Regions from separate parts of the Homo sapiens genome. Here all the other regions are linked to region 3. The links come from fine-mapping of genetic effects on gene expression. A gene starts in region 3. Each other region holds a variant in brackets. All regions are shown on one strand. Distances are between the middles of the regions.

What was found.
Region 1: its variant is fine-mapped to the expression of TRPV6 in whole blood (TOPMed, PIP above 0.99). The same link has a PIP of 0.9 or more in blood mononuclear cells and monocytes.
Region 2: its variant is fine-mapped to the expression of TRPV6 in whole blood (TOPMed, PIP 0.97).
Region 4: its variant is fine-mapped to the expression of TRPV6 in whole blood (TOPMed, PIP 0.96).

What each region holds. Positions count from the first base shown.
Region 1 is chr7:142,902,995-142,911,099 of GRCh38, reverse strand. It overlaps TRPV5 (transient receptor potential cation channel subfamily V member 5), which reads left to right. Exons shown (of 15, transcript NM_019841.7): 14 at 1,504-1,610; 15 at 2,292-2,999. The coding sequence ends at 2,586. Among named protein-coding and RNA genes, the nearest start is that of TRPV6, 21 kb to the right of the region's middle. The variant T/C (reference allele first, on the strand shown) is at 4,303.
Region 2 is chr7:142,952,112-142,960,216 of GRCh38, reverse strand. KEL (Kell metallo-endopeptidase (Kell blood group)) reads left to right here. Exons shown (of 19, transcript NM_000420.3): 5 at 1,789-1,913; 6 at 2,244-2,390; 7 at 5,690-5,752; 8 at 5,845-6,033; 9 at 6,261-6,409; 10 at 7,579-7,708. Among named protein-coding and RNA genes, the nearest start is that of KEL, 6.2 kb to the left of the region's middle. RefSeq lists an enhancer at 1,724-2,439. The variant T/A (reference allele first, on the strand shown) is at 4,363.
Region 3 is chr7:142,881,701-142,889,805 of GRCh38, reverse strand. It overlaps TRPV6 (transient receptor potential cation channel subfamily V member 6), which reads left to right and starts at 4,061. Exons shown (of 15, transcript NM_018646.6): 1 at 4,061-4,417. The coding sequence starts at 4,170.
Region 4 is chr7:142,923,508-142,931,612 of GRCh38, reverse strand. It overlaps TRPV5 (transient receptor potential cation channel subfamily V member 5), which reads left to right. Exons shown (of 15, transcript NM_019841.7): 2 at 1,167-1,264; 3 at 1,433-1,555; 4 at 2,048-2,185; 5 at 2,493-2,591; 6 at 2,747-2,922; 7 at 3,379-3,525; 8 at 5,872-6,084. Among named protein-coding and RNA genes, the nearest start is that of TRPV5, 6.2 kb to the left of the region's middle. The variant G/T (reference allele first, on the strand shown) is at 3,291.

The sequences.
Region 1 (8,105 bases), 21 kb before region 3:
GTTGTATTCTGTGAGGCTCCTGGTGCCAGGCAAAACTGCAGGCTTTAAAAGAACATCTTTCCCCCTGCCAATTCCTTCCATGTTCCATCTCATGGGAACACATTCGGGTCATAGGCACATCGTTGAATCTAAGGAAAGACCAAGGACTAGATAGTGGAGGTGTTGGTGATGGTGGTGGAGGGGAGGTTTGGGGGAAAATAGATTAATTAAGCACAACTGTGTGAAGCCCAGTCCACTCAAACCAATGCACTAAAAGTGATGAGGGAGCAATTCCCTAAATGAAAAATGGGTGCTGTTACCCGAGGAAGGACGGGGCTGCATGATGGCTCAGGAGGAACAATAAACATTTCTTTCAAGGCAAAGAAGAACAGCTATCCAGGGTAAGAGCACAGAATGACTGGAAGTCCTGAGCTAGGAGGGAACTTGGTGCAATTAAGAAACTGAAAGAAGTGTGGAGTAATGAGGAAGATAGGGAGTAGAAAAACATGAGGTGAAGAATTTGCTATTTTGAAGATTGCACTCCTTCAATTAGGAAGCCTTCCTGGTTCTGATCTATTCTGATTGCACCCTTTTGTCCATGCTCTAATAGATCATGGTTTCTTTGAAACTAGAATAGTCCCCAGTATGATTAGGGCAATGCGGTACAAAGCGGGACTATGCCTTTCCTTACTTGGACATAATGCTAAGGGTACCTAAAGCTGAGTCAGGTCTTTTAGCAAATATACAAATGGCCCTTATTAAGCTTGTGATCAGCTAGCACTCCCACACCTTTGTTCTATGACTCACTTATCTAAGCTTCCTAAATGTAAATATAGGACCTTAGATTTGGTTTACTTAAATTTCTTGTTAATGATTTTACACCAGCATTCCAATCTAGCGAGATAATTTTATATTGCTTCTGTTGCCCCACATATTACATATCCCTCCCAGTTTTGTGTCACAGGCATATTTGATAAGCTTGTTTCCCATGTTTCATCTAAGTAATTAATGAGGGCTGAGCAAAGGACAGAACGTGTGGTGGACTTGCTACCAGAAATTTCCCTGCCAACTTGCAGTCATTAATCAACCCTTTTCCTTCCTAAGATGTGGATATTTAATTTGCTGAAAATTCCCTGAACAGTAACAGTATCAATTCATCCCCAAGATCGTAGAGATTCTCTTTAATCATTTTATTTAAATCGAGATAATTGGTCTGTGGCTTTTATATGAAAAAGAAGTTGAGATTAGTTTGGAGTGACTCATTCTCCATGAGTGAATAGTAATGTAAGGGCAACTATTTTATTCAAAACACTCACAAAAAATCCTCTCTCATTTCTTGATGAGTGAAGCTGGTTGCATGGTGCCTGGCACAGGCTGTGGGGTGAATAGGTGGCTGTTCTCACCACTGACCTCTAGTGTCCTATCTCACAGATTGCCTTTGGTTCCCTTTATCAGTGGCCTCAGTGCCTCTTTGAACCTCATGGCTCTTTCAGAGTTCTTCCTGTATCTCCTGCCTCCTTCCAGGTCGTGGCCACCACAGTGATGCTGGAGCGGAAGCTGCCTCGCTGCCTGTGGCCTCGCTCCGGGATCTGTGGGTGCGAATTCGGGCTGGGGGACCGCTGGTTCCTGCGGTGAGTGATGGTGTGCACATGCAAAACTGCAGATGTGTATAAGGCCACGGAAGCAAGGGTGACCGACAGGCGTCCTGGAGCCTACATTAGCCTGTCTAGGGGAGGGGGCTGGAGCTGAAGTGGAGGGGTACGAAGAATGCTGTGTGTACCTCAGGGCAGCCACGTGTAAAAGGTTGTGTGCATGTGTCCATGCTCAGACGTCAGCATGGGTTACCAGACTTGCTGTAACCTTGTTCTGAGCTGACCTTCATCTCCAGTGTACTTTTGGCTTGGATCTAACTTCCTCCTTCATATTCTGCCCTCATCTCCCGGCGTGACTCTCCTCTCTCCTCAAATTTACTTCCTGAATTGCATCTCGTCATCCTTGTGACACGCTTATCTATTAGTTGGCTCTGTTTTCTCTTTCACATTCCTACGTATTAGTAACACACAAACACACACACACCTGTGTGCGTCCTACCACCCTGCAAGCCCTGATTGCTCAGCCTCCATTATCTCTATCCCAGGTTAGCCTGCCCTCCATCACCTCCCTTCACTTGATCCCAGATACTCTTCCTGTTTCAACTCTGCTGCCTTATTTCTGCTTCCCTCTTGACCCTGCTTTCTAAATGGTCACCTCTACTTCTCCCCTGCCCATGTCTCCCCACCTGGATTGAGTCCTTTCCCCTTTCCCCTTATCAGGGTTGAGAACCACAATGATCAGAATCCTCTGCGAGTGCTTCGCTATGTGGAAGTGTTCAAGAACTCAGACAAGGAGGATGACCAGGAGCATCCATCTGAGAAACAGCCCTCTGGGGCTGAGAGTGGGACTCTAGCCAGAGCCTCTTTGGCTCTTCCAACTTCCTCCCTGTCCCGGACCGCGTCCCAGAGCAGCAGTCACCGAGGCTGGGAGATCCTTCGTCAAAACACCCTGGGGCACTTGAATCTTGGACTGAACCTTAGTGAGGGGGATGGAGAGGAGGTCTACCATTTTTGATTAACATCGCTATCACTCTTGACCTTACTCCCGGTTGGCCTGGGGGCGGGGACAGAGACGGAGACCTCTGCCTATGCAAGTGTCTAACTTCTGTGCCTGTTAATCATGGGAGGGTGAGACAGAACAATCCCTAAAGGGTCATGCCTCACACTTCACATCAGAATTTCTGGCAATGGGCAATGGTCATCGATTGTCTCACGTATTTTCTGGGCTCTTGCAAGTCACCCATCTCAGGAAAAAGGAGGTTGGCAACTAAAGACATGAGGCAGGGATGCTAGATTAATGTCAGGACCATTTCTCTTCTGCCCCACGCAGCCCCTAGAAAGTAGTAAGCTGTGAGGCTTTTCTGGCTCCCCAGGGCTTACGTGGGAAGAGCCAGGCATGGCATAGAGGTTGTGGCCCTTCTTTTTTTCCCAGCCTCCTGTAGGTCTCTCTCTCCACTTAGCAAGCAAACACCAACTGCAATAAAAAAGTCTCCTTATTCTTGCCTTCTTTAATTTTTTACTGTGGCACAATACATGTCACATAAAATTTACCATATTATCCATTTTCAGATGTGCCATTCAGTGGCATTAAGTACATTCACATTGTTGTGTAACCATCACCATTATTCATTTATGGAACTTTTTCATCATTCGGAACTGAAACTCTAATCCCCATTGAACAATAACTCTCCAGCTATCTCTCTGCCCTGGTCCCTGATAACCAATATTCTGCTTTCTGTCTATGAATTTAACTATTCTAGGTATCTTATGTAAGTGGGATTCTGCAATCTTAGTCCAAAATTTGACACAGTTTGTTTATTTATTCATCTACCAATGGACATTTGAGTTTTTTCTACCTTTTGGCCGTTGTGAATAATGCTGCTATCAATATGGTATACAAATATCTGTTCTAGTTTCTATTTTCAGATACTTTGGGCATACACCTAAAAATGGAATTGCTAGACAATTCTTATGTTTAGTTTTATGAGGAACTGCCATACTGGTTTTCACAATAGCTTTCACCATTTTACATTCCCTTCTAATGGGTGTGAAGTGGCTTCACATTGTAGTTTTGATTTGCCTTTCCCTAATGACTAATGATACTGAGCACGTTTTTATACACCTATTTATTGGATGTTTATATACCTTCTTTGGAGAAATGTCTTTTCAGTTTATTTGTCCATTTTCGAATTAGGTTTTTGTTGTTGTTGAATTGCCTTATCTTTGCTTTTTGAGGCTCACAGTCTGAAGTGTTTGCATCCTGGTGTGTTTTTAAGAATGTATGGTAAATTAGGCCTATATTTGAATGGCCTAATCATTTCTTTTCCAGGACCCTCCTGCTCTGTCCCTAGCAGCTAATCATCCTTGTGCCTGGAGGCAACAGGCTCCTGCTTGTTCTCCTGACATAGCCATCCTCCATTCCCATCTCCCTTTGCCCCACACTGAGTTGTGAAAGGAACAGCAACAATAGAGGAAGGGTCATCCCTCTCCAGGAGGGAAATTAGGAATCATGTGTCCAGGGCACCCATTATAGGTGCTCATGGTCAGCCTCTCTTGTGTCTCCAGCACTATACTTCTAATCCCAGCCCCATCATCACCCTTAGCAAAAAGCCATGTCAGCTTTTCAAAGGACTGTGGTCTGGGATAACAAAGAAGTAAGTGGTATTTGTGAAACCACAGACAGTTAATTCAGATACACCAGCCCAGGGCTGAGTGCCCAGCAGTGAGGGAT[T/C]GCACAATGTGTATACACACGCCCGCACACACTGGGACACAGTGGTGGCAGGGTATGTAAAACTGCTCAGTCACCATCATTCTTCTTTATTCTCTTCATAGTAGAAGCACTTTAAAATTCTGCTTCTGTAGTCCTTTTTTTTTTTTCTTGAGACAGGGTCTTGCTCTGTTGCCCATGCTGAAGTACAGTGGTGTGATCACTGCTTACTGCAGCTTCGACCTCCTGGGCTCAAGTAATCTTCCCCCATCAGCCTCCCAAGTAGGTGGCACTACAGGTGTGCACCACCACACCCAGCTAATTTTTGTATTTTTTTTAGAGATGGGGTTTTGCCATGTTGCCCATGGCTAGTCTTGAACTCCTGGTCTCAAGCAATCCACCTGCCTCGACCTCCCACAGTGCTGGGATTACAGCATGAGCCACTGCACTAGCCCTGTAATCTTTTTAATACTTGCTTAACTTGTCTATAAACTTATATGTCTTTTGATTTGAGCCCTTGGCCTGCCCCCAGGTATTGTCCTTTGTCCTGGCTTGTGCACCTGGTATGTAATTAAAATTGCTTACTGCCTAGGTTTTTCACTAAAATAAGAATTACTAAGAGTTAACATTATAAATTAATGAATGTAATTAAAACTACTAGGTACATACAATGTGTATTAAACAGGTAGGCTGTGTTTTTTTTTGGAGAACAAATGTTAAAATAAGTCATGGGAGTGTGGTTCTTTTTTAAGAGAAAGTGTTTTTTTCTAGTTTAGAGGATTTTAAGGACTGTTTCAAGTTAACAGAAACGACAAAACTGAAGGTTTAAGCAAGTCGTAGAAGGTTTGTGGAAGATTGATCTTGTAAAAGGAATTTTGTGTGTGATCAAGTTTGGCTAAAATTTTAAGGGGATTATTTAGATATTATACAAATTGAACATTCATATAAATAGCACATTGATGCAGGGTCAGAATCTGAGCACCTGTGTGAGGCAGGATTTTCTTGGAATATTGATGTGTTCTTTAACACAAATTTGTAAAGTTTATAAAAGCCTCATGGAAATCTTACCTTACAATCAAACTAATTAAAATTTGGTAGATTTGCTTATAAGATTCTATTAAAGCTTTAGAATTAACAATACAGTAATACAAAAATAAAATTTGGTTTTCTCTTTTAAATAAGATTTTTGTATAATATTAAGAGATAGTAAAAGATTTTCATTTGCCCTTTGAATAAACTGCCAAAAAAATTAAAGAAGAAGGAGAGGAGAGACAGATTCAGTTGGCTTCACACTGTCTCTATTAGGTCCTATTTTTTAGAAAACTGAGGTCTTCTTTATCAAGGAGTAAAGATTTCTGCTTTTTTTTAAAATTGGTGAGTTATCACTTTAGCTAAATGATTATAATGACCTGTAATCTCATTTTGCGATATCAAGTGCTTTAAACTTTTAATGTTGGACTAACTTTCCAAGATTAAATTCTAAATGCAGTCTTTTAACCTCAAACTGACTTTTAAATGTCCAACAGAGGCATATTTGGCTTATTTGATATGTTAAAATCATACAGGAGGCATTGCCAAGTATAAAATGGTGTGTAACTTTCTTTGAAATATATTTATATAAATGTGCTATTGTTATGTGTTCCAAAATTGTATAATATTCTTATAATTTTAATATGTCTTGGTATATGTGATCAGTAATAATTATAATTATGGTAAATTATTGTGTGCCACAGAAATAACCAGATTTCCTTGTCAATTATATCTTTGACTGTGGATATCTTTTGTCATTCACAATTATTATTTTACTTTGTTCCTTTTCAAAAAGTTGCTTATAATCAGTTATAGGACTCTGATGGTGTATTAGTTCATTCCCATGCTGCTATGAAGAGATACTTGAGACTGGGTAAATTATAAAGAAAAGTTTAATTGATTCACAGTTCTGCATGACTGGGGAAGCCTCAGGAAACTTAGAATCACTGGAGAATCACCTCTTCACAGGGTGCCAGGAGAGAGAATAAGTGCCAAGCAAAGTGGGTAGCCCCATATAAAACCATCTGTTGCCCATGCTAGAGTACAGTGGGCAACTCACTGAATGAGTGAGTTCTCATTAGAACTCACTAGCATGAGAACAACATGGGGGGAACTGCCCCCCATGATTCAATTACCTTTCACTGGGTCCCTCCCACCACATGTGGGGATTATGGGATTACAATTCAAGATGAGATTTGGGTGGGGACACAAAGCCAAACTGTATCAGATGGATACTTTTAAATGCAGGTTTCTGACAGCTTTGGAGATTGTGCCATTAAAATAGAGGAAAAAAATCTTCCAGGACACTCCTGGAGATCTGATGTATTCATGAGGATTGTTGACCCAATATCAAATAGAACAGAGGTTAATTGCATGAACTGAGCTAATAGAAGACTAAAATAATTTTTTGTGTGATCTTTTTGTCTGAAACATTGGTGATTCTTTTCATTTTTTGGGTTGTTTACAGCTTTTAACAATTGAGTAAAATATGCTCTTGTGAGCAAAATTTAAAGCATATTTCTTTCTCTCTACCTGATTTCTCCAGAATTTGAAAACTATTTTTGAGTATTCTTAATTTATAACAATATAGTTATTTGTATGAGCTCAATAAGAATCTGCTTTCTTTTGTAACAGGACACAATTGGAGACTATTATTTTACTAAAGCTTTGACTAGAATGAAATATTTTAAGCTATAAACAAAACAACAAACTGTTTTAAGGAATTGCCATTGACTTATAGAGCCAATAAAAGATCCTTAAAAAAACTGGCCTTGTACCTTGCCTACACAATTCTTTTACAGGGTTCCCAACCTGTGATAAGTAAAGAACGTTACTTTCTGGCAGGCCCGGGAACCCCAAGTTATCTTGGGATTAAGAAGAGAGGCATTCGCCCAGTTCATACAGATATCTGCAGGCACAAATAAATTCTTGACTGGGCTTGGGGCCTTTAAAAAGTCTAAACTAAGATTCCTTAAATAAAAAAGTTTCCAGCAAAGTCAATTTTAAAAAAGCCTAAATAGAAAATAATTATTCTTGCTGCACTTTATACAAAGAATCAGGTGAAGTATAATACAACTAAAGCTTTTCTACAAATAAATTAGTCCTACTATGATTTGTCTTTGATAAAAATGGAGGACTGAGATAAAAATTATGTTTTTTTTTTTTTTTAAAAAAACATATAAAACACCTCTTCTTAGACCCCACCTTATCAATTGTTTCTCAGTTTCATTCTTTGTTAAAATGCATTTGGACTGAATCCTAAGTCCTTTCCTGGCTACAAGTCTCCAAACTACTGTTCATTTTTTTTTTCCTTTTTCTTTCATTTTTTCCCTTTTTTTTCTCATTTGGAATCTAGAAATTAAAACTAGAAATTTTAATTTAAAATTAAATTAAAATTAAAACTGTGCTTTTCTTAAAGTTCTGCCAAGTGAAACTTGAAACTTAAACTTTGGGAAAAGTAACAGCAAATTATTTATATATATAAACCACTTTTGTGCCTGCCTACTCATTCATGGACTTCAGAGCAATATAGCCTAAATCAGTTTTCCAGGATTACTTTCCCCTTTTGTTGTCATGATCTTTCCTCCTTTTCTACTGGTTTTCTTTCTCTCTTCTTTCCCCTATTTTTCTCTGTGGAACATGAAACTTCACAACCTGCTAAGAATGATCCTTTCTAAAATGAGGGACCTAACCCTCTAGAAATAAACTGTCCTAGTGACAAGGGATCAGACCAAACCTGAGATCAGACACTCACTTTCTTCTACAATGCTTTCCCTGAAAGATTTGGAAGAACAGGG
Region 2 (8,105 bases), 70 kb before region 3:
ATCACTGTGCATAAGAGAAAAAGTGGGTAAGTACAAAGGATATGCTGGAAGAAGAGGAGAGCTGAGTTAATTGGCAGTGGAAGTAAAGTTCCTGCAGATGGAGGCTGGAGAGGAAAACTGCCAGGACTGAGAGGAAAACCAGAAGGATGAGCTGAAACTGAGTAGGAGGTTGGAAGTGCGTCCCAGGAAGTTGGTGGATGGTGGTGAGGATTTGGGAATAAGAACATATAAGATAGACATGCATTTCCAGTGCAAGGGAACCTAAAGAATGTGTTGACACTATCAATTAGAATCTGGGAAAAGTAAATGCACCCCTCTGCCCTCTTTTTTTGATGGGGAAAGAGTGGGAGGGGGCCTCTCTTTGGGTAAATGGATACTTTCAGGGAAGGCACAGAGATAAAAAGAAAAAATATGCTCAGGATAAATTATATTGCCTACAATGGGATGAATAGATATCAGGGGGACTGAGGGTGAAAAGAGTGTTAGATATTAGAGGGTGGATGATTCAGAGAGACTTGCATTTGATTATTGTAGTGTGTTTGTTTCCTGGGATCAATGGATGAGGAGTCTGGACTAGAAGAGTCTTCCCCTGTTTCTTCTCTTTGCTAAACCTTTCCTTATGAGTTTTCTTCTCTCCAAATCCTTAAAGTTCTCTAGTTCCCTGAATTTGTCTAATTTCTTCAATCATTTCTTTTGTCTTTCATTTCTCTCTTTTCTCCTTTGCCCATATCCCACTTATTGCTACCTTTCTCCTTTCTTCCCTGTCTTTTCCTTCTTGGTTTCTTCCCCACATTTCTTTTATTTTCCATATTGTCTTCTTCTCCTCATTCTCTTTCCCTGCTTTCATCATTTCATCAAGTTGATCCATTCCAAATTGGGCAGTCCTCTCATCTTTCTTATTTTCCTCATCTCTATTCCTCCCCCTCCTTCCATATTCTGTGGGAGTCTTTCTTTCCTGTAAGCTCCCTGTCTCCCACCCTCCCTCTTTGCCTCTATACCAGTTGCCACTCCTTTAATTCTCCTGCCGACAAAAAGAGTCAAACTCTGTAAAATATTTGAAAAGATTTATTTTGAGCCAAATATGAGTGACCATGGCCCATGATACAGTCCTCAGGAGATCCTGAGAACATGTGCCCAAGGTGGCTGGGGCACAGCTTGGTTTTATACATTTTAGAGAGTCATGAGACATCAATCAAATACATTTAAGAAATACATTGGTTTGGTCCAGAAAGGTGGAACAACTCAAAGGGGTGGGGGTGGCTTCCAGGGTACAGGTGAATTTAAACATTTCCGGATTGACAGTTGCTTGAGTTTGTCTAAAGATCTGGGATAGATAGAAAGGGAATGTTCAGGGTAAGATAAAGATTGCGGAGACCGAAGTTCTTTTGAAGTCTTATAGTGGCTGCCCTTAGAGACAATAGGTGACAAATGTTTCCTATTCAGATCTTAGTTAATCAAAAGATCTAGCTATGTTAATGAGATATGTTAATAGCTAATAGAGATGCTTTACAGATGCAAATTTTCCTCCACAAAGAACAGCTTTGCAGGGCCATTTCAAAATGTGGCAAAGAAACATGTTTTGGGGTAAAATATTTTTGTTTTCTTCTTTGTCTCGTAATGTTATGCCAGAATCAGGTTAGAAAGTAAATCATGTTACATGGGTTAAATAAAACCCATCTGATGAGAACTTATGATATAGGGCATGACTCCCCAGACCCCTTTGATAGGAATTTGGGGCAAGATAAAAAAAATCAGAGTTTAGTCCTCACTCCCATGCTTCCTTTCTAGAGGTCCAGAATTCCTGGCACCCAGGCTCTGGGGAGGAGAAAGCCTTCCAGTTCTACAACTCCTGCATGGATACACTTGCCATTGAAGCTGCAGGGACTGGTCCCCTCAGACAAGTTATTGAGGAGGTGAGAAAAGTTGGGATATTAACTTTTCTGGATACATAACATATGGGACCAATGCATGCTTAGGGCTGCCATTTTTTTTTCTAGAGGGTGGGTCTTCTTCCTAGGGCCCCCCAATTTCTAGGAGGGAGATGGAGATGGAAATGGTTATGCCCTATGAAAGTATCAGGACCTTGGGAGAAGGCAGATAAAAAAGGATAGATGTGGCTTCCTAGAGGAATCGAAGGGCGCAGGGCAGAGGTCAGGCAGTAGCAGCTGTGTAAGAGCCGATCCAGACAATGGGGGATGGGCTCCACGGATCCTTATGCTCAGCCCCCTCTCTCTCCTTTAAAGCTTGGAGGCTGGCGCATCTCTGGTAAATGGACTTCCTTAAACTTTAACCGAACGCTGAGACTTCTGATGAGTCAGTATGGCCATTTCCCTTTCTTCAGAGCCTACCTAGGACCTCATCCTGCCTCTCCACACACACCAGTCATCCAGGTGAGGGATGCACTGGCGAAGACACAGTTGGACCTGGCCTGCCTCCAACTCTAGCCAATCATCCCTTAGAGGAAGGTTGCAGGTTGGGAAGAGAGGACACCTGTGTGATATAGGAAACAACCCTACCTTAAGGGAAAATTATTGATGTGAAAGTCAGGGACATTAGCTGGGGGTGGGAAATGGAGCAGCAGAGCCAGTGCTGGGAAGACAGAAGTAGGCCTGGTCTTTCTTACTGTTAATCTGGATTAGTCTCAGAGCCCCTTAACCAGTCCTCCTATCTCTAGGATTGCCCTCATTTTATTTACTCTTTATTTTTACTAGAGGGAACTTTTCTAAACCAAGGGCTAACTAACTATGCTACTGTCTGTATTTAAATGCTTGTCAGTGACCCAGTGGCTTGCCAGGTCATCAGAATCTAGTCCCTAATCTTTAGTAAAGCTTTGCAAGCACCTTGTGATCTGACCCCTACACACTTCTCCAGCCTTATCTCCCGTACATTCCTTCTCTCCCTTACCCCCAAGCCATGCTGACTCACTGCTGCTTCCAGGAATATTCCTCAGTTCTTTGCCTATGCTGCTCCCTGTGCCTGCAACCATCCCCCACACTGAACCTGGAAAACTTACATGTTTTTCAAATGTTGGCTTTATTATCTCTTCCAGGAAGTCTTCACCGACACCCTAGTTATGAGTTAGGTGAAGCCCTGCTCTCCCTACTTTCGTTTCCTCATGCTCTCAGCATTTATCACTCTGTGTTGAAGATTGTGAGCCTCTTTAGAACAGGACCATGCTTTATTCACCTTTGTTTCTCAGGACCTATCACAGGGCCAGGCAGCTAGAAGTTTTGCCAGGTATTTGTAGTGAGTGAGTAACTAAATAAAAACACTGGAGCTATCACTCTTGTGGTTAAACAATGTAATGCTATCTGCATATTTGGGCCCTACTGTCAAAAGAGCCACAAAATTACCAAAGGATAAGTACAAAAGAAGAATTGATTATCATTATGAGGTGTTCTAAAATTTAGTTTTAAACAGTCTGCTCAGGAGTTTAACTGATGTGGCCTTTAGGGGCCGGTTAAGATCTGGTTAAGGAGAGGCTCAGAGAGGAGAGAATGAGAGAAGGTGAGCTAAGCCAGCCTTGAAACATGGTTAATTCACACAAGTGGAGGTGAAGCTATGGGGCGTTGGAAATGCTGAGCCAGGGGGAGGACCTGGAATGGTGTGATTCCTTCGTGGAGTCAGTGAGGAGGCTGATCTATTTAATTGAGGATTTGGGAGGCAAGGTGGGGTGCAGTGGGAGGTAAAAGTGAGACTGAAGACATAAGGTTGAGCCTGATTATTTCTAAGAAGCCAGGCGAAGGTGAAACATTTGACATAATAGAAAAAAAAAAAAGAGCTACTGAGGCCATCCAACTCTTATGACAATTGTGCATAGAGCAAGTATTTTGATGGTTGTGCGTAGAGTCAGCAGTTTTGAAGGTCAGTCTGGGGGTGTTGAGGAAACTAAATGAGCATTTTTGAGGCCCTGAGATAGAGGTAGAAATGGAAAGGAAGAGCCAGGCACAAGGATTTAGGCAACTTCACCCTAGTGATGATAGTTCATGCTGTTTCTAGAGGATTTGGTGACTGATTGGATATAAAGAAAGAAAGTGGGGGATTACACAGTGATCCCATTGTTTTGATTTAGTGTGAGTGGGAGGAGGGTGATTATCATCAGTGTGAGCCTGGATAGTCTCTTGGGTTAAAAGCAGGTAGGAAGAATGGACTACAGAAAGAGAAGTCCAAAGACTGAGGGCAGAAGGGAGCCAGGGAAGAGAGAGTACTATTGGAGAGATGGGAGCTAGACCAGTATGGTGGGCCACAAAGGAAAGAAAAGGAGCTTCAGGAAGGAGGGGTCAGCTCAGAGAAGAAGGAATGAGAAGACACCCTTGGATACCTAGAGATACTTTCCAAACAGTTATGGCAGTGGACACAGAC[T/A]GCACAGAGCTTAGGAGGAAGATAAGAAAGTGGAAACAATGGGCATAGATGCTTTTTTGTTCTTTGAACTGTGGACATACAATGTAGCAAAAGGGTCAAGTGAAAGTTTTTTTCGAGACAGAAGGAAAAGTATATGGCTCAAGATAAGAGTGGGATATTGAAATTGGAGAAGAAAAGGGAAAGAGTAGAAGCAAAGATCTTCAGAATAGAAACAAGGGTTCATCAGGGCCAGACTAAGGTGAAATATACATGGTGCTTACCTGGGGTGCTAATTTAAGAAGGTCCCCAAAACTCAGTATCATGATAAATAGTATTTTATTAAATATTCCTAAAAAATCAAAATCAATGCAACAATACATGATGGAACAAAATATCAAACTTTTCTTCATTATGAATTTTTTTGAAAAAAGATTATGCTTTTTTTCCCAAAAAATGGGACAAAATTCTGTGTGAATCTTTTTGAAAATACTAATTTTTTTATTCAAAATGAATCAAAAATACATTGAGGACTTTTCTTGAACACATCATGATTCTTTTCAAAATTGACTAAAAGTATGTTTTTTTGGGGAAAAAAAGTCCATGATAAGCAAAGTTTTGAGATTTTATTTATCATACATTTTTGGTAGTAATTTTGATTTTTTAAAATGTTAATTATTTATCTTGATTACTGAGTTTTTTTAAAAAAGAGTTTATTTGAGCAAAGACTGATTTATGAATTGGGCAGCATCCTGAAGCAGTAGAGGTTCAGAGAGCTCCACCCAACAATGCAGGCAGGCAGTATTTACAGAAAGAGGAAGTGACACCCAGAAACAGCTTGATTGGTTACAGCTTAGCAATTGTCTTTAATGGGCATGGTCTGATCACTTGACAGCCTGTGGTTGCCTGAAGATCAGCTGGTATGGCTGGCTGAGATGGAGCTACCTGTTGCAAGAATATACTCCTAAGTTAGGTTGCAGTTTGATTACTGAGTTTTTGGTACCTCTTAGATTTTGTACCTGGGACAGGTTCCTCACCTCACTCACCCTGGCCCTGTTCCTGAGACAAGGAATAGCTCCTTTTAAGATGCTGATTATCATGCTTCTGCCTTGCTGGGCACACCCACACTGGTTGTAATACTCACCATCTCTTCCCATTTTCACATCTGGACTCTTCTTCTCATGCCCCTCAACCCTTAATCCCTCCCTTTCTTTGTACTCTTGCTTCTCTTCTGTCCAATCTTTGTGTCCATCTCCCAAGGCCATCTCCCATGGTATATTCCCCACCTCCCCACACCTGCCCTCTCCATCCGCCATGCTCCCTGCTTCTCTCCAGTCTCTCTTGTGCCCAGATAGACCAGCCAGAGTTTGATGTTCCCCTCAAGCAAGATCAAGAACAGAAGATCTATGCCCAGGTAAGATGGCACATGGACAAAGGCCCTGCCCTCTGAGGCCAGGAGAAAAGCAGGGACCTCTGGCACCTGTGACTGACATTTCCTTCCTCCAGATCTTTCGGGAATACCTGACTTACCTGAATCAGCTGGGAACCTTGCTGGGAGGAGACCCAAGCAAGGTGCAAGAACACTCTTCCTTGTCAATCTCCATCACTTCACGGCTGTTCCAGTTTCTGAGGCCCCTGGAGCAGCGGCGGGCACAGGGCAAGCTCTTCCAGATGGTCACTATCGACCAGCTCAAGGTGCCTGGAACTGGGGGCCAGAAGACTGTGGGCATGGGGATCTTCCTCTCAAACATTACCTCCTTTCCTTCTTCCTCCTAGTGCCCTTAATACCTTTTCATTCTGTCTCTGACTCCATCCCCTCCCCCAGTTAGCCTGTTCTCTTCTTTTTCTCACACCCAAGGGGAAGCCCTTTCCCCTTCCTTCTCTTTTCCTTTTCCCCCTCAGCTTTGTGTCCCTCCTCTAAGGAAATGGCCCCCGCCATCGACTGGTTGTCCTGCTTGCAAGCGACATTCACACCGATGTCCCTGAGCCCTTCTCAGTCCCTCGTGGTCCATGACGTGGAATATTTGAAAAACATGTCACAACTGGTGGAGGAGATGCTGCTAAAGCAGAGGTTCGCCGCAGGTGGGATTGGGGAGATCATGGAAATGGAGGAGAGCCTGAGCACCGTAGATCTTGGGGGCAAAGGAAACCTTGGGGAAGGCAGGCTGGTAAGGGCCTCCCAGGAGGATAAGAGGAACCTGCCACCTGTGCGGGCAGAGAAGCGTGGGGTGGGTGGCACAGAGAGGATGGAGGGATCAAGAAGGATGTGTCTTGGGAGCACGAGTAAGGGAGGATACACACGACATGAGGAACGCAGGGTCAGCCAAGACACGGGGTTTCCTGAGAGTAGAACACCAGCCAGTCAAGAGCCTCTGAGCTGTAGAAGATGCTGGAAGACCCAGACACAGAAGACAGTTAAGTGTATGTATGTCTTTTTAGCAGCTGAGGACTGTGGGCAGGAGGAGGAGGCACATGAGATGAGGAGATGAACATGGTGAAGGCTGGGGATGCTTAGGGGAAGAAAGGAAGAGGAGGGGCCATTCCTCAGGTGTGGTGTGAAGATGCTGGAGCTCTTATGGGAAACAATGTCTAAGAGCATTTCTGCTGGTGTCAGGAAATCAAGGGGGTGTTGGGGTTGGGGACATGAAAGAGTGGCTCTTTGTTGGGCTCTCTGCCTCCCCTGATACCTGGGTGGCTACCACCTGAAAGCAGTGGCTTTCTTCCAGGGGCTTGGACCTAAGGGCCTTCTTCATGGTGGCAGCAGCATCTGGAAATCCTTTTTGAGGGAGGTAGCTGCCCATTCACATGGCAGTGAGCAGGCTTACATAAGGGTGCAATGCAGCCCTGGCAGGAGCATTGCTGGTGGAGGAGAGAGCAGTCACAGAGACCAGCTTACTTATGCTTATGAGATACATCTGAGGATAACCAGAGATATCTTGACTGTGGAAGCAGAATCTGTTTCATGACATGAGTCCAGACTCCATCTAGCCCAGAACTTTCTTTCCCTGTGACTTTGAAGGCTGCCTCTTCATCTAGTTTCTTTTACTAAGGAGCTAGATCCCACCCCAACCTACATCATGAAAAGCTCTTTTTGACTTGGGTGCATGTTAAAACACTTATTAATACAGAGGAGAAGGAGCTGCCTTCACGAGTATCAAGGTGACTTACACAAGGAGAGGCTCTTCTTGAAGCATCCCCAGATTCCTGGGGTATATGTGTGGGTCTCTTTTGTCTCCATAGGGACTTTCTGCAGAGCCACATGATCTTAGGGCTGGTGGTGACCCTTTCTCCAGCCCTGGACAGTCAATTCCAGGAGGCACGCAGAAAGCTCAGCCAGAAACTGCGGGAACTGACAGAGCAACCACCCATGGTGAGGAGAGGAGCGGGTGTATTTGCCCAGATACTCGAAAGGAGTATCTACTCTTTTGAGGGGTAAATGTCGGCATCTCTCTCTCAGGGAGGGGGCCGTGATGGTAGATGCCCCTCCATGTCTTGGCTTTCCATAGAAGCAGGCAAGTTGGACAGACAAAGTTTAACTTGAAAACCAAGATGCCACGTGCCAGACCTTCAGGCACACATCTCCCAGCCTGACTACCTCTCTGGCTTCTTGCTGGGTGTTTGAGCTCAAATATAAAACTCTGATATTATCAAAACTGCCCTTTCTTTGTCATGATGCTTACACTATTTGCTCAGGATAACTTGGACTTAGAGCTTACAATTTATTGGGATGACAGAGAGATATGTTACGCAGTGGCCTTCCTTATGTC
Region 3 (8,105 bases):
AATACCACACACACTATAGAAATACACCAGTACACCCCCAAAATACCACACACATGCAATGCATGTACACACACACTACACACACACACACACACACCCCTCACCACAGAGACTAAGAGCAAGGGAGCAGAGATACTATTGCACAGTGACAGAGGCAGTAAGACAGGAAAAACTGAGCGAAACATAGAAAGACATAGGACAAATAAAAAGTGACAAAGCCAGAAAAAAACTATACATATACTTTTCTGGCTCTAAATCAGTGGTTCTCAATGGAGAATGATTTTGCCAATGTCAGCGTGTAAAGACATTCATGAGCAGCGTGTAAAGACATTCCTTGGTGGTCACAATGGAGGGGAGGGACATGCTACTGTCACCCAGTGAGTGGAGGCTCGGATGCTGCTAAACTTCCTACAATGCCTAGGACAGCCCTTGCAGAAAAGAATTATTTGTTCCGAAATATCAATAGTGCCGGGGTCGAGAAATTGTGCCCCAAATGCGGAAACATCGGGGGCACAGGAGCTCTTTGGAGCTCCTGTGCCTCCAGCTCAGGACTGTGTAACTGTGACCTCTCTGCCCCTCTCAGGGGCCGTCAGAGGAGGCTCTGACACTCTGCCCTGGGGCCCCCAGGGAAGCCTGAGGACCTCACTTTCACTTAGCATTTGAGGCTCAGCCCCAGGCAGGGAGGACTGGTTTAACCACCTGGTCCCCAGGTTGCCTGCTCCAGTCCTGTCCTCCCTCCCTCTTGGCTCCTGACCCCTTCGGTTCTCTTCAGGGCTTGGTCAGAGGCCACCACGAGGGCAGAAAAGAGGTCAGGCCATGCACTCATCATTATGGATAAAATCATTGAGAGGAAGAGCGACTCACTCAGAAGTCACACAAGTCTTATTATTTTTGGAGCCTGGGAAAGGGAACCGGGAGAGGCCAGCCCCGTGAGTGCTCTCCCAGGATCTCCAGTCTCCCCCTCACCACCTTCACCCCAAAACTCACAGCCTCCTGGGCATGCCCACTCCTTGACTGTGGGTTACAGAACCGATTCCTCCCATGTCAGGAGGTGCTGCCCTGGGGTGGAGTGGCACAGAGGGGGCTGTGCTAGTCTCAAGGGAGAAGGAGGTCCACGGCATCCTTCCTGTCCCCTGGAAACAAGCAATATGGGATGCAGGTTTAAGATGTGAGACTGAGGCTGGACGCGGTGGCTCACACCTGTAATCCCAGCACTTTGGGAGGCCGAGGCAGGCGGACCACAAGGTCAGGAGATCGAGACCATCCTGGCTAACATGGTGAAACCCCGTCTCTACTAAAAATACAAAAAATTAGCTGGGCATGGTGGCAGGCGCCTGTAGTCCCAGCTACCCGGGAGGCTGAGGCAGGAGAATGGCGTGAACCCAGGAGGCAGAGCTTGCAGTGAGCCGAGATCACGCCACTGCACTCTAGCCCGGATGACAGAGCAAGACTCCATCTCAAAAAAAAAAAAAAATGCGAGACTGAAAGTGATTGGTGGGGGTGCTTTCAGGAGCTTCTGGGGGTAGTGCCACCTACCCTAGGGCCACCTTCCCTTACTGATACGATGTTAGGTCCAAAGACCAAGAGAACATTGCAGCCAGAAGCTTATATCCTGCAAACTTGTCCTCCCCTCCCATCTGGACACCCCAATTTTGAGTCTGTTGGCTGATCCATGCACAACACCAGGTGGAGGAGGCTGAGGAAGAGGAAGAGCATTGGAAAACAACTTTGTCCTCCTCCTATCCTCCTCCCTCCCTAAGTCTCCCTCCCAAAGCCTCCCTCCCCCAGCCTCTCTCCCCAGCGTAACGAAGGCCTCATTGCTTTCTCTCCTTCCCCACCAGACACTAAACTGGGGTCTTTGAAGCTAAATAGGTCTTTGAAGCGACAAACCACTGGCTTAATGGGCACAAAGGTCTTGGGGTTCAAGGTTTGGGTTCTAGCACCTTCCCCCAACCCAGCCCGAACCCACTGACCCAGGTGGGTGGGGACGAAGCTAATCCAATTGAACTGTTTGCTCAGGACTGCGTGGCCTGGCCTCTGCCCAGCGGCAGGAACACAAATAGCTTTCCACTTGAAGGGGTCCTTCTCTCCCCTGCCCTACCTCAGCATCCACCTCCCTCCACACACCGACTCCCCCCACACACAGCACATATGACACACACCCCATGACATACATACACACACAACACACACCATACATACACACATAGTAAACCCACCATACACTACACAAATCATGTATACACCACACACACACACACACATCATGTACACGCACACATACCTTAAAGGTACCATATACATCACCCACTACACACCATACACACAACACACATGCAACAATCTTTCCACAATACGTATATACACAACACACATGTCACACATACCATCACAGACACCACATCCACACGCTCTACAGGCCATACCTACACATATCACATATATCATACACACGTAGACACATACCAAACACACCACAGGCACATCATATACATACAGCATACCACACACAAAACACCCCACCGATGCACATCATGAACACACGCATAAACACCACACACAAATGCACATGGGCACACACGCCATACACACGCCACACACACACTCCCCTGGCTGGGTCTTCCAACTCTGAGTCAGAGAAAGTTAGGACAAAACAGACTCTGAAGCTAGGAAGTGATCCACACACCTGTGACTCTGAACACCCAGACACCTGCCCCTAGGCTATTGGCACCTGGCTGGCACCAGGAGGTTGGATAAGCCCGGGCTTCTGCCCCTTTCCAGTGGAAAAGTTGAACTAAATGACCTTTCCGACAGCTTCCAGCAAGCTCATGATGGAGCTCTTTGTTGTGGGAAGACGATGGGCCATGCTTAATGCCATCATTCTTCTGTATGACTGTGCGAGTCACTTAACCTCTCTGAAGCTCTGTTGGCCAGTTAGAATGAGGAGGTGTGCTAGGGAGAAAGAAGTGGGCTTGGAATGAGGGATGGGTGTGAATCTTGCCTCTGCCACCTCTATGGCCTTGGGAGAGTTCCTTTACCATGGTGAGCTTTGGTTTCTCCCATCAATACAATGTAGATAATAATACCTGCCTTGCAGGTTTGTTACGAGTTTACCTGGGAACGCTCAGTTAAAAGGCCCAGCACACAGTAGCAGCTGAATGTCACCTCCACGGGAAGGCTGGCAGATAGAATACTTGCAAAACGTGGGGTATATTTATACTAAAAAATTCTTTGTTGTTTATCTAAAATTCAAATTTGACCACGTGTCCTGTATTTTATCGGGCACCCACCCCATGCACGGGGCATTGTGGACAGTCTGTGGAGCTCCTGAGCAGGGGGTCTGCCCAGAGCTAGATTTTGTGCCCTGGCTGGTGAGCGAAGAATGCATTTTACATCTTTGGGGGTGGTTAGAAAACAACCACCAAAACAAAACCAAAGAATAACGTACATTAGAGAGTGTACATGGCTTGCAAAACCTAACATCTTTACATTTCCTATCAGCCCTTCCAGAAAAAGTTTGCTGACCCAAAGGTGATGGGGACTGAGAGGAAAGTCTGGGAGAACTGAGTATCTTCGCAATTTATATACCTATTTCAGGCCTGGCAAGAATGAAACTGGAAGAGTCCAGAAAATGGAATTCTCCAGGACATAAGCAGGGGGAGGCAGAGAGTGAGGCAGGTGGTCGGCAGAAGAGGCACTGTGGGAAAGTGGGGCGCTCCCTCCTGGGAGTCCTCAACATTGGGAATGGGCCTGCCCTGACTCCTCCCCTCCTTTCTCACTGCCTAGAGTCTCTCAGGGTAGGTCACTGGGTGTTCTGACGTCCAAGGGAGGCCTCGCCAGTCTTTCTGAAGGCCTCCCTGGTTGTGACTGGCCTGGGGGCAGGGAGAGAGCCCTGGGTGGAGAAAGAATTGGAGTTGGCACAAGTCCCCCTTGGTAGGCAGGTCTGTGGCTGGCCTGTGTCTTTAAATCTCAGGTAATTTGGGAGGAGGGAGGGCGTGTCCGTGCAGCTTTGGCTCCTCCTGCTCACTCCCAGCAGGAGCTCCAGACAGGCCAGCCCTGCAGAGTCCTGGCTGGCTCTGCCAAGTGTAACAAACTCACAGCCCTCTCCAAACTGGCTGGGGCTGCTGGGAGACTCCCAAGGAACTCGTCAGGAAGGCAGGAGACAGGAGACGGGACCTCTACAGGGAGACGGTGGGCCGGCCCTTGGGGGGGCTGATGTGGCCCCAAGGCTGAGTCCCGTCAGGGTCTGGCCTCGGCCTCAGGCCCCCAAGGAGCCGGCCCTACACCCCATGGGTTTGTCACTGCCCAAGGAGAAAGGGCTAATTCTCTGCCTATGGAGCAAGTTCTGCAGATGGTTCCAGAGACGGGAGTCCTGGGCCCAGAGCCGAGATGAGCAGAACCTGCTGCAGCAGAAGAGGTAAGGCCCCCTTGGTCTGCTCCCTTCCCCACCTCCCCAGGCCTGCACCTCTACCCCTCACCCCTCCCTCACCTCCCGTCTTTGTTTGGCACCTTTGGCTGGACAGATGGTGCTCCCAGGCCCGGACTGGCTCCTTGGGAGCATTCTGTCTTAAGAGCCTCAGCCTGTAGGGCTGGTGAAAGAGGATGGGGTTGAGATGGGCACAGGTGTTCACTATCTTAAGATCTAATTCGATTCTGCAAGCCTCTTGTGAGTACTTCTCTAAGGGCCAGGCGTCTTGCTGGGGCTTGTAAGGATAGAGCATCACAGCCCCTCCACCCAAGAGGGGACGGCAGGTGAGGACAATGCCTTCTGTATCTCCACTGCTTGCCTCTAGAACAGTCTCTCTGGCAGGAACACATAGTATACATATGTTCGCATGGAGGAATGAGTGAACGATTGAATGAATGAAGCAGAGAGAACCGCGGACACCAGGAACCAGAAAATAAGACAAAATGTGAAAAAAGTGACCATTCCTATGTATCTGTCTCATCAGACACTGACCAAGGCCTTACTATTTGCCCAGCACTGGGGGGATATGAAGACCTACAACGCTCAAACCCAACCTTGAGGTGTATTTCTCTCTCAGTGCGGGTGGGGACTGAGGGGAAGCGGGTCAAAATAACAGATGTTCCGAGGACCTGTGCTCTTCCGCATTCAGGTGGTGGAAATCGAGACTCTAGCGTTTAAGCCCTAAGGACATTCACTGGTGGCTTCCAGCCCCTGAAAACTTCCTAAACCCGTGTCCTGCTTTCTTCACCATGACAGCTTGGAGTACAGAGCAGGAGAGGAGCAGGGAATCGGAACTCAGGGCTATCCCTGCATGTGGTCTCTTCTTCAAGGTCTCTAATAGAGTTCTCTACCCAGTTGGTGGCATGCTAGAAGGAAGTCCTGCCTGTTGGGGCTTTCCCTGGGTCACGAAGGAGGCAGATGTCTGGTCATAGAGGAAAGCCTGAAGTCTTTGTGCCTTAGGGTTTTTCTCTGACCCCAAGAGTAGGAGCCTGCTTTAGCCTGACCGGGGAGGCTGCCTGGAGGCCCCTGTGTTTTCTTTTGCTGAAGGATTCTGGGTTGGGGATGGTCTCTTTCTGTGAATTATGGCTTCCCATCTCTCCAGCCGCCCACCTCTCCCCCAAGGCCTGGGAGAGTGGGGACTGGAGCACATGTTTGGCTGATGACATCTTGGGGCAACAGAATGGCATTGTTGTTAGAGAGTAGGTCGTCCTCACTGGCTTCACTCATCCTCTTCCCACTCTTAGGACCCCAGGGCCAGGGGATCCAGGCACAGAGTGCAAAAAGGCCTGGGGGATTGGAAGGGGTGGTGGAGATTCCCTGTGTGCGATATCAGGGGAGAGCAGAGGGGAGGCCCTGCGCTGAGTGGCTGAGAATAGGCTGCTTCCGCATGTCCTGTCTGCCCTCACTTTTCCTCAGATCATATGGGGGCTGCCTCTGCAGACTTTGGCTAGAAAGGCTTGATGTCACCCTTGGGAGGGATCCCCCCTCCCTGCCCTGATCTCCTTACTGGCCTCCGCACTTTCTTGGCCTTCTTCTTGCTGGATATCAGGTGTCCAGAGCAATGACTCTTCTTTGGGTGGGCACTTCCCAGAAGGATGCTGAAATTGCCTGCAAGGGGAGTTTCCTAATCTGTGCCGTCAACCAAAGAGAAGGCATGGGGGCATTGAGATAAACATGGGATGACTAAGTAAATAGGAACAATATGGACAAGTGAGGGGTGAGCTAATGGAAGAAAGGAGCACACAATGATTGAGAACCCAGTGCTGTACTAGGTACTACCACCTGCCTTATCTCCGTCATCCCGGTAACAATAATGGAAGGTGGGTCCTGTTATCCCCCTATGAATGGGGCAGGCCCAGAACCCTAGAGCAAGTAAATGGTGAAGTTGAATTTGTTCCAAAGGGGACTCACAGGGAGAACTGTGGGGTGGGATTGCGTGGGATTCCATGCGGTACAGGATGGTCTAGTGAGAAAGGAAGGCTTTGAGTCTCTCCAGGATGATCGGGAACCCAAACTCCTCTTTTTACAGTGGACGTTTCTTGGTGCTTAGCACGCAGCCCGCTCTGCTTAAATCTACATTGCTGGGATCCAAGTCGAGCTCTCAACTTTCTCCCGTGTCCTCCAGGTCATCTCCCCCTTGGGCTTGGGTTTTCTCACTTCCTGATATTTAATGCATTACACATTTATTGAACATAAGGCACTCCACCTTTCTGCAGAAAATGAATATGACACTGTTCCTGCTCTCAGGGAGTTCTCATTCCTATGACCAAAGTTTACTGAAGGCACATACGGGGCTAAAGATGGGCTTAGTAGACATCACTAGAAGGGTGTAAATGAGTGTTCTGGAAGCATAGAGGGGGAAGTGTGAGATCTGATTTCGGCTGCTGTGGGGTGTCCTGGGCAGCTTCATAGAGGCTGCTTAACCTGAACCCCACTCCAGCCCATGTGCTGGCACTTTGTCATCTAAGGAGCAATTTGGAGGGAAGGTGATGCTTGTTGGAGCTTTTTTTAGGGTTAAATACCTGTATGAAATGTGTGAATTGAGTGTCTGAAAAGTCATCCCTGGGTTTCTCTGGTATATTGTGCACGCTTGCCTTGGTAAATACTTACACACATGCCTACTTGTAAATGCGCAAATAGACATGTGCACAAAAGGAGCTGTGGCACTTAGGATGGCAGCCGATTCCAAATCTCTAAACAACCACTTTGGCTTTCTCATCCCCATTGCCAGGAACATGAGCTGGAGGGAGGTGGCCCACAAGTGCCCAATGTATGCCTCCGCCCCACACATTACCGCTCTTTCCTTCATCTGTGGTCACTGCTCAGGCTTGCCCCCCAACCTCCAAGAAAAATCAGGAGGAGCCATAAAACTAGAAGAACCACATAATTTAGTGGTCAGAGCCTGGGGCTGGATTCTTGGCCAAGCATCCTGCCTTTAACTCCGTGTGATCTTCTGGCAATGATTTGGTTATGCCGCTTCAGTTTCCTTTTCTGAAGCATGGGAGAACTATTCAGCTGGTGTTAGAAGGTTGTAAAGAGCAAAAGTGATAATGAGTGAGATGCTGCGGGAATGAGAGGGGCCATGAACTTCCCCTGCACAGCACTGTATCCACCCAGGAATGCAAGAAGCCACGCACTCCGAGCAACCCTGTTATGTACCAGCCCCAGCCCTGCCCAGAGGGTACACTCACTGGTGGGAAAGGTATTTGTGGAGAGACCAGTGGGACCCATGCCTGTCTTCTCTAACTCCTCTTCCAGCCCTGATTAAAACTGAGAATCGTGACCAAGAAATGACCAGTGGGGCATGCGTCGTGGCTCTGTCTCTGACTTGCTTCCTCCATCTGTTTCATGAGCAGATTTGACTCAGTTTCTGAGGGGCTTTCTAGCTCTAAAAATCTTATTTGAACTTTTCTCAAGAGTCTTGTGATCCTGCCTTGTTTCTCAGCACCTAAAAACCAAATTGGACCCATGCACACAGTGCACACATCTACAAGGATGGAGGAGCAGATGAGGGTGTGGGGCGGAGGAGACGGAGAGAGGAAGTCAGGAATCCTTCCCTGGTGGCCCAGAGGCAGCCCTGAGAAGGAGGTCATTGATCTGTTTGCTCAAGAAATAATGTGCTAGATTTTGTGCCAGG
Region 4 (8,105 bases), 42 kb before region 3:
TGTCCTTTCTGTTCTTCCCCCTACACCATGTGCTTGCCTTTGGGGCCAATACACATATGTCTAGTTGGAGAGGCTCCAGCTTTATCTCTTTCTGGGTTCAAATCTGGGTATGGTAGAAGCAAAGATTAACAGAGGTCCTGTAGAATGAGTATCTCAACCTGTTTTGCCTTGAGACACCCACATAAACAAGCTGTTTAGACCTTTGCATCTAAGGGTATAATGCAGAAGAAAGAGGCACCCTGTAACTCACCCCACAACTCTCCACCCCCTGCAGGGACCTGTATCTAAATAACCTGAGGATGCTGGGCGCAATGTAATCCCAGCACTTTGGGAGGCCAAGGCAGGCGGATTGCCTGAGCTCAGGAGTTCGAGATCAGCCTGGCCAACATGGCAAAACCCCATCTCTACTAAAAATACAAAAAATTAGCTGGGCGTGGTGGTGCGTGCCTGTAATCCCAGCTACTCGGGAGACTGAGGCACAAGAATTGCTTGAACCTGGGAGGCAGAGGCTGCGGTAAGCTGAGATTGTACCACTGCACTCCAGCCTAGGCAACAGAGCAAGACTCTGTCTCAAAAAAAAAAAAAAAAAAAAAAATAGCCTGAGGGAGTAGTCAGAACTTTAGTGCCTCACAAATTTCACAAATTTCAAAATGCCTAGGAAAGATCTAGCAGTCGATCCATTCCTCCTCCCTCTGTGTTTTGGTCTCCCAAACTCCCCTTGGTTAAAGACAGTAGATTCAGCAGGCCCAGGAGCAGGGGGACCGCAGATGGAAGTGCCCTCTGTCCCGCTCTCCAACTATCCAGGATCTGAGACAGTTACTCAGGTTAGATGAATTCAGCCAAGCCTAGGGTCCTCTTCTTAGAGACTCTCAGACCACTCTTTCCAGACTACAGGTTCTCTTCCTATTAACTCTTCCCCTCCAGCAGAGCTTCAAGGGCCATCCTCACAGGAGAATCACCATGATGTGAATTGCAAGGAAGGCCCTGGGGCTGACCCTTGCCCAAGTCCACCCTCGGTCATTCGAGTCCAGTAGGCACTTCTTTCCAATTTGTCACTGCACGCTGTGTGAGTCACGTTGGTCTTAAAGAATGTCTTAGATCCCCTTTGCTCTTGGCCTCATTCTGCTATGACTGTCTCTTCCAAACTCACGTTCACCTTTCCCCAGGATTCTAGAGTCTCCACTGCTTCGAGCATCCAAGGAAAATGACCTGTCTGTTCTTAGGCAACTTCTACTGGACTGCACCTGTGACGTTCGACAAAGAGGTGGGATCTGGATTTAATGGGATGGAGGTGGGGGCAGAAGAACCTACTCCTCCTCCCCAAGACTTCGAGTTTGTGAAATAGGGCCTTGGAGGGTGTCTCTGGAGCCTGAGGCCCCTTCCTCAAGGGAATCTGAAAAGTGTCTAACATCTCTGTCTTACTCCAATCCAGGAGCCCTGGGGGAGACGGCGCTGCACATAGCAGCCCTCTATGACAACTTGGAGGCGGCCTTGGTGCTGATGGAGGCTGCCCCAGAGCTGGTCTTTGAGCCCACCACATGTGAGGCTTTTGCAGGTAAGGAGCCTACATGGTAATTCAAGGTGGAAACTTTGAGATGGAGGGTGTGCTGTTGTCTCTTAAAATTGGCCTCTGAAGGATGGGTTGGGGTGGGGTGATGGAGGGTCAGGAGGATGGGCTCCGTTGAGTTGGGAGAAATGCAAAGGTCCTGGTCTTGGCTTTTACCAATCTGTGGCTTCCTTCAGCATTTCCTTTCAAACCTCCCATAGTCCCTGTAGGACCTATCTCAATTTCTTTCTCTCATAGCAACATGAGAATGATTATATTCATAGCAATCCCCTGCTGGCTCCCAATAACTGAAGGGTAGGTCAATGAGCAGGGCAGCCTGAGGGATGAATTGCTCTTAGTCCCAGGCCACCCTGCCAAGCCCAGGGCAGAAGTCTAGCAAAGATCTATCAGGAACCTCCTGAGAGGGATGGTGGGGGATGCTGTGTCCCTGAGAGAACTGGGGACAGAGGGAGACCCTGATGATGGCTGTCTCTGGGCCAGGTCAGACTGCACTGCACATCGCTGTTGTGAACCAGAATGTGAACCTGGTGCGTGCCCTGCTCACCCGCAGGGCCAGTGTCTCTGCCAGAGCCACAGGCACTGCCTTCCGCCATAGTCCCCGCAACCTCATCTACTTTGGTGAGAGCAGGGTTGGGCTTGAAGGATGGTTGGCTGGAGAGGCGGGCAAGGCAGAGGGAGGCCAGGGCATGAGGGTCCTGCCTTCAGCTCCATCTGTTGGGCAGTTGAGAGGGGCAGCCCTTCTAGGGCTTAATTAAGCCAGAGGCCCATTCCCCTGATGGTTCCTTCCTCTGGTTCTGCTGGACGAGTGTCCCTCAGCCTAGAACTGAGATATGGGGGATGAGGAGGAGGCCCTTATTTGGGGGAGACTGCCCACCCCATCCTGCCATCCTGCGTTCTCCTGCCATGGATCTCTCTGTGTCCACAGGGGAGCACCCTTTGTCCTTTGCTGCCTGTGTGAACAGCGAGGAGATCGTGCGGCTGCTCATTGAGCATGGAGCTGACATCAGGGCCCAGGACTCCCTGGGTAAGAGCTGGGATGGGGAGGGGAGCTGGGATGCTGTGGGGAGCGAGGGACAGGGTAAGGAGTGGAGCTGGGACCTTTAGGAAGACCCCAGAGTGGGGATGGGGACATCAGGGACTTTAGGCCAGTGGCCACATGATACCCTGCGTCCTCCCCAGGAAACACAGTATTACACATCCTCATCCTCCAGCCCAACAAAACCTTTGCCTGCCAGATGTACAACCTGCTGCTGTCCTATGATGGACATGGGGACCACCTGCAGCCCCTGGACCTTGTGCCCAATCACCAGGGTCTCACCCCCTTCAAGCTGGCTGGAGTGGAGGGTAACACTGTGGTAAGAGACGCTCCCCATCCCTGAGGTGTCTTTCTAATGACCCTCAACCTATCCTGCTGGCCCTGGGAGAAATAGAGGTGAAGGGCCCACCTTTCTCTAAAATCCCTTTTCCCCAAACTCCCCAAAGGGATGGTGGTCCCTTGCTTCCTATTCCATCACTGAAATCTTCAGCTTCATGGTCCTTGACTCAAGAGGATTTGAGAACCTTACCTTAATGCATGTGCTGTGATAACCCAAAGCTCTAGCTTCCTTTGCCTATTTTCTTCTTTCTGCACTTTCTGGGGTTTTGGAGCAGGAAAGATGACAAAAAAGGGAAAGCTTGTAGATGCAGAGGTTTGCTGGTTCCCACTGTCTGTCTGTCTCAAGGG[G/T]TGGGCAACTGGCTCCATCCAATGGAGTTGTTCTCCTCGACCACCTTCTCACACGTTGGCCCCCTGACTCATCCTGGTGGTCTCTCAGATGTTCCAGCACCTGATGCAGAAGCGGAGGCACATCCAGTGGACGTATGGACCCCTGACCTCCATTCTCTACGACCTCACGGAGATCGACTCCTGGGGAGAGGAGCTGTCCTTCCTGGAGCTTGTGGTCTCCTCTGATAAACGAGAGGTATGGATGCCAAGGAGGATCAGGCCTGTCATGTGAGGGAATTTAGTGTTTGTGCAGAGTCTGTCCACTTACTAAGATCCTGGGCCTGAGACACTTCCCAGCCTTATAATAGGTGGAGATGAGAATAGTCTCCTGGGACATGGGGGAAAGTCCAATGCACACTCCTCTCCTGAATCCCCTGTCTCTCTGCTTAGCTCCAGTCCCTTCTGCCTACCTTTCGCCTTCTATCATTTCAGATGAGAAACTCCAAATAAGAGCTGTTTCCTCATATTCATTCATTGGTTCAGCATTGATATGGTTTGCATTTGTGTCCAAATGCAAAAATTTCATGTCAAATTGTAATCCACAGTGTTGGAGAAGGGGCCTGGTGGGAGGTGATTGGATCATGGGGACAGACTTCCCTCTTGATGTTCTCGTGATAGTGAGTTTTCACAAGATCCGGTTGTTTAAAAGTGTGTGGCACCTCCCCCTGCTCTCTCTTCCTCCTGCTCTCTCTTCCTCCTGCTCCGGCCATGTAGGATGTGCCTGCTTTCTTCTTGGCCTTTTGCCATGATTGTACGTTTCCTCAGGCCTCTCCAGAACCTGTACAGCCTGCAGAACCATGAGCCAATTAAACCTTTTTATTTATAAATTACCCTGTGCCAGGTAGTTCTTTATAGTAATATGAGAATGGACTAATACAAGCATATTGAACACCCGCTGTATGTCAGGCACTGCACAAGAAACAAACAGTACAGAAATAAATACAACACAGTTCCTGTTCATCAACTTCCTCAATTCTCAGTCCCTGTCCTGAATAATTGCAACAGAGCATGACATATGCCGTAATAGTTGTGTGTACCATGCATGCAGACAGCCACATTGAGGTAGAGTTAACTTGGCTTGGATAGACCAGAGAAGATGTCACAGAGGAAATGCTGGGGCTGGATCTTCAAGGAAGAATTGGGAGTCACAGGAAGATGAGAGAAAAAAAAGAGCTTTTTAGAGAGGGAGCAACGTATAGACCATTCAACAATGCTGGGTTGAGTGATGTGAGGGAAACGAAAATTTGTTGAAGACTGCAGTAGAGAGGAGAAAAGACTTCCAGGTTTCAGAACGTTCCATGAGAGTGCCAAGATGTAGTTTCTGTTTTGTATCTGCCACAGTGACAATTTCCCAGGAATCCTTATAGATCCAGAAAACATGAATGATTATTAATACTAACGAATAGAAGAAAAGTTGAGTGGCTAGTTTGTGAGATCTTCCTCAGAGAATATCCCTGGAAACAGATACACTTTGAGCAGGATTTCTTAGGTATTAAAAGCACAATCCCACTGTGTGGATTTCGCCACCACATATCCTTGGTCTTTGATTTAAGCTATTCTCAATATTCTCCAGCAGGTTTCATAAGTGTCTTGGGTCAGTTGCTTTTTTCCTCCATAAATCTTCCTTTCTAGCCCCCTTTCACATCCTTCACTACCTTCAGCTGCAGTTCAGAAGACCTAGACTCCTGATTTAGGACAAAAATAGAGGCTTTCTGGCTGGGGATCCTTCAGCTTCCTGCCCTACACTGCCGAGCATGTCTGGAAACTGCCCACTGTCTCTCTCCTCCCCTCCAGCTTCAGTAGAAAAGATATTCATGCTGTTAATGGCTAATCACTCTACTGTGCTTTGAATCTGTCTCTTTCTAATTTCTCAGATGCCTCCTCCCGTCCATCATCCCCTCTCCTGTGTATCTTTAACGTCTCACTGGCTGCTTATTTCAGAGCACCATCCCACCCTGCCACATCCTACTGCCTGTAACCTCCATTGCTTCTTTCCAGCCCAATAATACTTCTAGAGCAAATCTGACCACTTCCCTGCTTGAACTCCCCAGTTGCTTTCTGTTATATTTAGAAAAAACAAAAAATGCAAACTTCCTACCTTGGCATTTATGATGCATGATGACCTGGCCCTGTTCTTCCTCAGTCATTATCATTTCTGACTACCACTCCCAATAGATTCTCCCCTCTCCCCAACCACATCTCAACTGCAAATGGGCAATGGCTTCTCAGACCTTCCTGACCTGGCAACTGCTGTTAGCTTATGGTATGATCTTTCCTAACTCTCCCTTTACTCATCTAACTACTACTCATCCTTTAAATCCTCTTTGGTGCTATGGTGCCTTGTGTTTACTGCTATAGTCATTTACCTGTATCACTAGCACAAGGCCCAGCCATATGCAGGAAATATACTATTTGTCCGTCAAATAAGTGACTGATGAGCTGAGTGAGTGATGGTTGCTGCCCTGCCTCTTCTGGCCCCCAGTGGGATAAACAACATCCTTCTGTGTTGGTCACCCCAAGTTTCACTCTACTTCCATGCCAGGCTCGCCAAATTCTGGAACAGACCCCAGTGAAGGAGCTGGTGAGCTTCAAGTGGAACAAGTATGGCCGGCCGTACTTCTGCATCCTGGCTGCCTTGTACCTGCTCTACATGATCTGCTTTACTACGTGCTGCGTCTACCGCCCCCTTAAGTTTCGTGGTGGCAACCGCACTCATTCTCGAGACATCACCATCCTCCAGCAAAAACTACTACAGGTGATTCTCCTCAGAAGGGGATGAGAGAGAATTGCATCAAGGGGTGATGGTGCTGGAAACGAAGCCATGCTACTCAGGGACGATGCCACGCTCTGGGTTCCAGCAGGTGTAGGCTCCTAAACACCCAGGTAGAAATTAGACATGAGACCAGGAGGCCACAGATGGGGTTTAATGAGCACAAGAGCATTTGTCCAGGGAGCTGTGGATTTTCTCACACAAACTTTGAAAGAGTGCTTGGCATGAGTAAGCCTGTGCTTTTGTGAAATTTTTTGGTAATTTACAAAAAGTATCAGGGTTTTTTAGTGGGATGTTCAAGGTAAACTCTATTGCTCAAAAGGAGGAAAATTGTGCTCCAAGTCCATTTCTGAGTCCATTTTTGTTGTATTTGGGCAACACAGACAGCCCTGCTGGCCTGCACCCTCTTCTGTGTGCTGTCTATATGGGCCCATGGGAATAATGTGTCAGCTGTCTGACTGCCTGTCAGACACTCTGCAGAAGGATGTCTGGATTGGGTATCAGGCTGAAGTAAATACTCTCTGAGGCTCCATTTAGTGTTGTGGGCCTGCCATTCTGTGTTGTGGTGGCCAAGGGAAAACTAGGGTTAGGAAGAGGACTGATTCGAGGTACACAGTAAATATAGAAATCTGCTGTTGAAGAAAGTAAACCTCCTTTTTGTGCAACAGAAAGGGTAGACTCTAATGAGCACTTCTGAATATATATATTTAACAACTGTAGCTATATTTGAGGGGTTGACTCTTTGTGGATTACTAAAATTTTTGTCCTGGTGAGCTGAAAATACACAGAAGGTGATGTAGGTATGTAGCAGAAAGCAAAAGACCAGGAAAAAGAATTTTGCAAAGCAAGTGAGAACTGAGTGATTGGAGATTTATCTCAATGCAGGAGAGAGCAGCCATAGGTATAGCTCAGCCTGGACTAGGAAGCAGGGTAGTTTCAGTCGGAAAGAGAATATAAACTTTCTATAGCCAAGAAGCAAAAATCCTGAATTTGTTTAGACCAAAGACAGCGATATGCACAGAGAAAGAACAGGGCAAAGAGCCCAAATGAACCCTATGCTAGGTAGAGACACTCCATCTCTCCTGTTTTTAGAATTGCCTTTATATATATACATGTATATGTATATATATATATATATGTATATATATACATGTATATGTCTATATATATATATATGTATATATATACATGTATATGTGTGTATATATATATGTATATATATACATGTATATGTATATATATATATATGTATATATATACATGTATATGTATATATATATATATGTATATATATACAGTGTGTCATGTGTCCAGATACACTGCCTCTCACCAAGTAGGTCTTGCTGCCTGGGGAGGACAAGCCTGAATGTGTTAGAGACACTGGAAGCAGTTGTGCTGCATGCATCTCAGTCTGGCCGCAAAAGTTGTCCCTGGCATGGAGACATGAGGAAAATAAGGACAGTTAGGAGATGGCAAGTGGAGGGAGGAGTGATTAGAAATTGAGAAAACACAAACAAGGTGGGGATGACTGGACTTTTCCAATGCTCCTGGCCCTATTTCCTCAGATATGTCTTCTCCAACCTTCCTTTGTCTCAAATTTACTTGGAGATTTTCTGCATTTTGAAGGTAGACAGGACTCTGGGTTAAAAGGTGGGCAATGCTGAGCCACTGATAACCAAAACTCTCCTTCCTGTGTGTCTCTTTCTCTTTGGGACAGGGCTAGTTATGTACAATCACATTTCTTTGATCCAGATAGTCTGTATGTAAAAGACCGCCTCCTTTGCTTCAGGACTCAGAAGCATAATTATAGCTGAACACCTGACCCATCCTTCTTTCTTTCTCTCTTCTGCCTTCCTTCTTGTTCCTTGGCATTTTTACCCTTTCTGCCTTCTGCTTCAGTGAAAGCCACTTCAGCTCAAAGAGAAGACTTTGGACTTTCAGATATTCTTTTCTTGGTGGAGAAGTGGGTGGGTAAGAGGATTGAGAATGCTGCTGGAAGGGGTTAG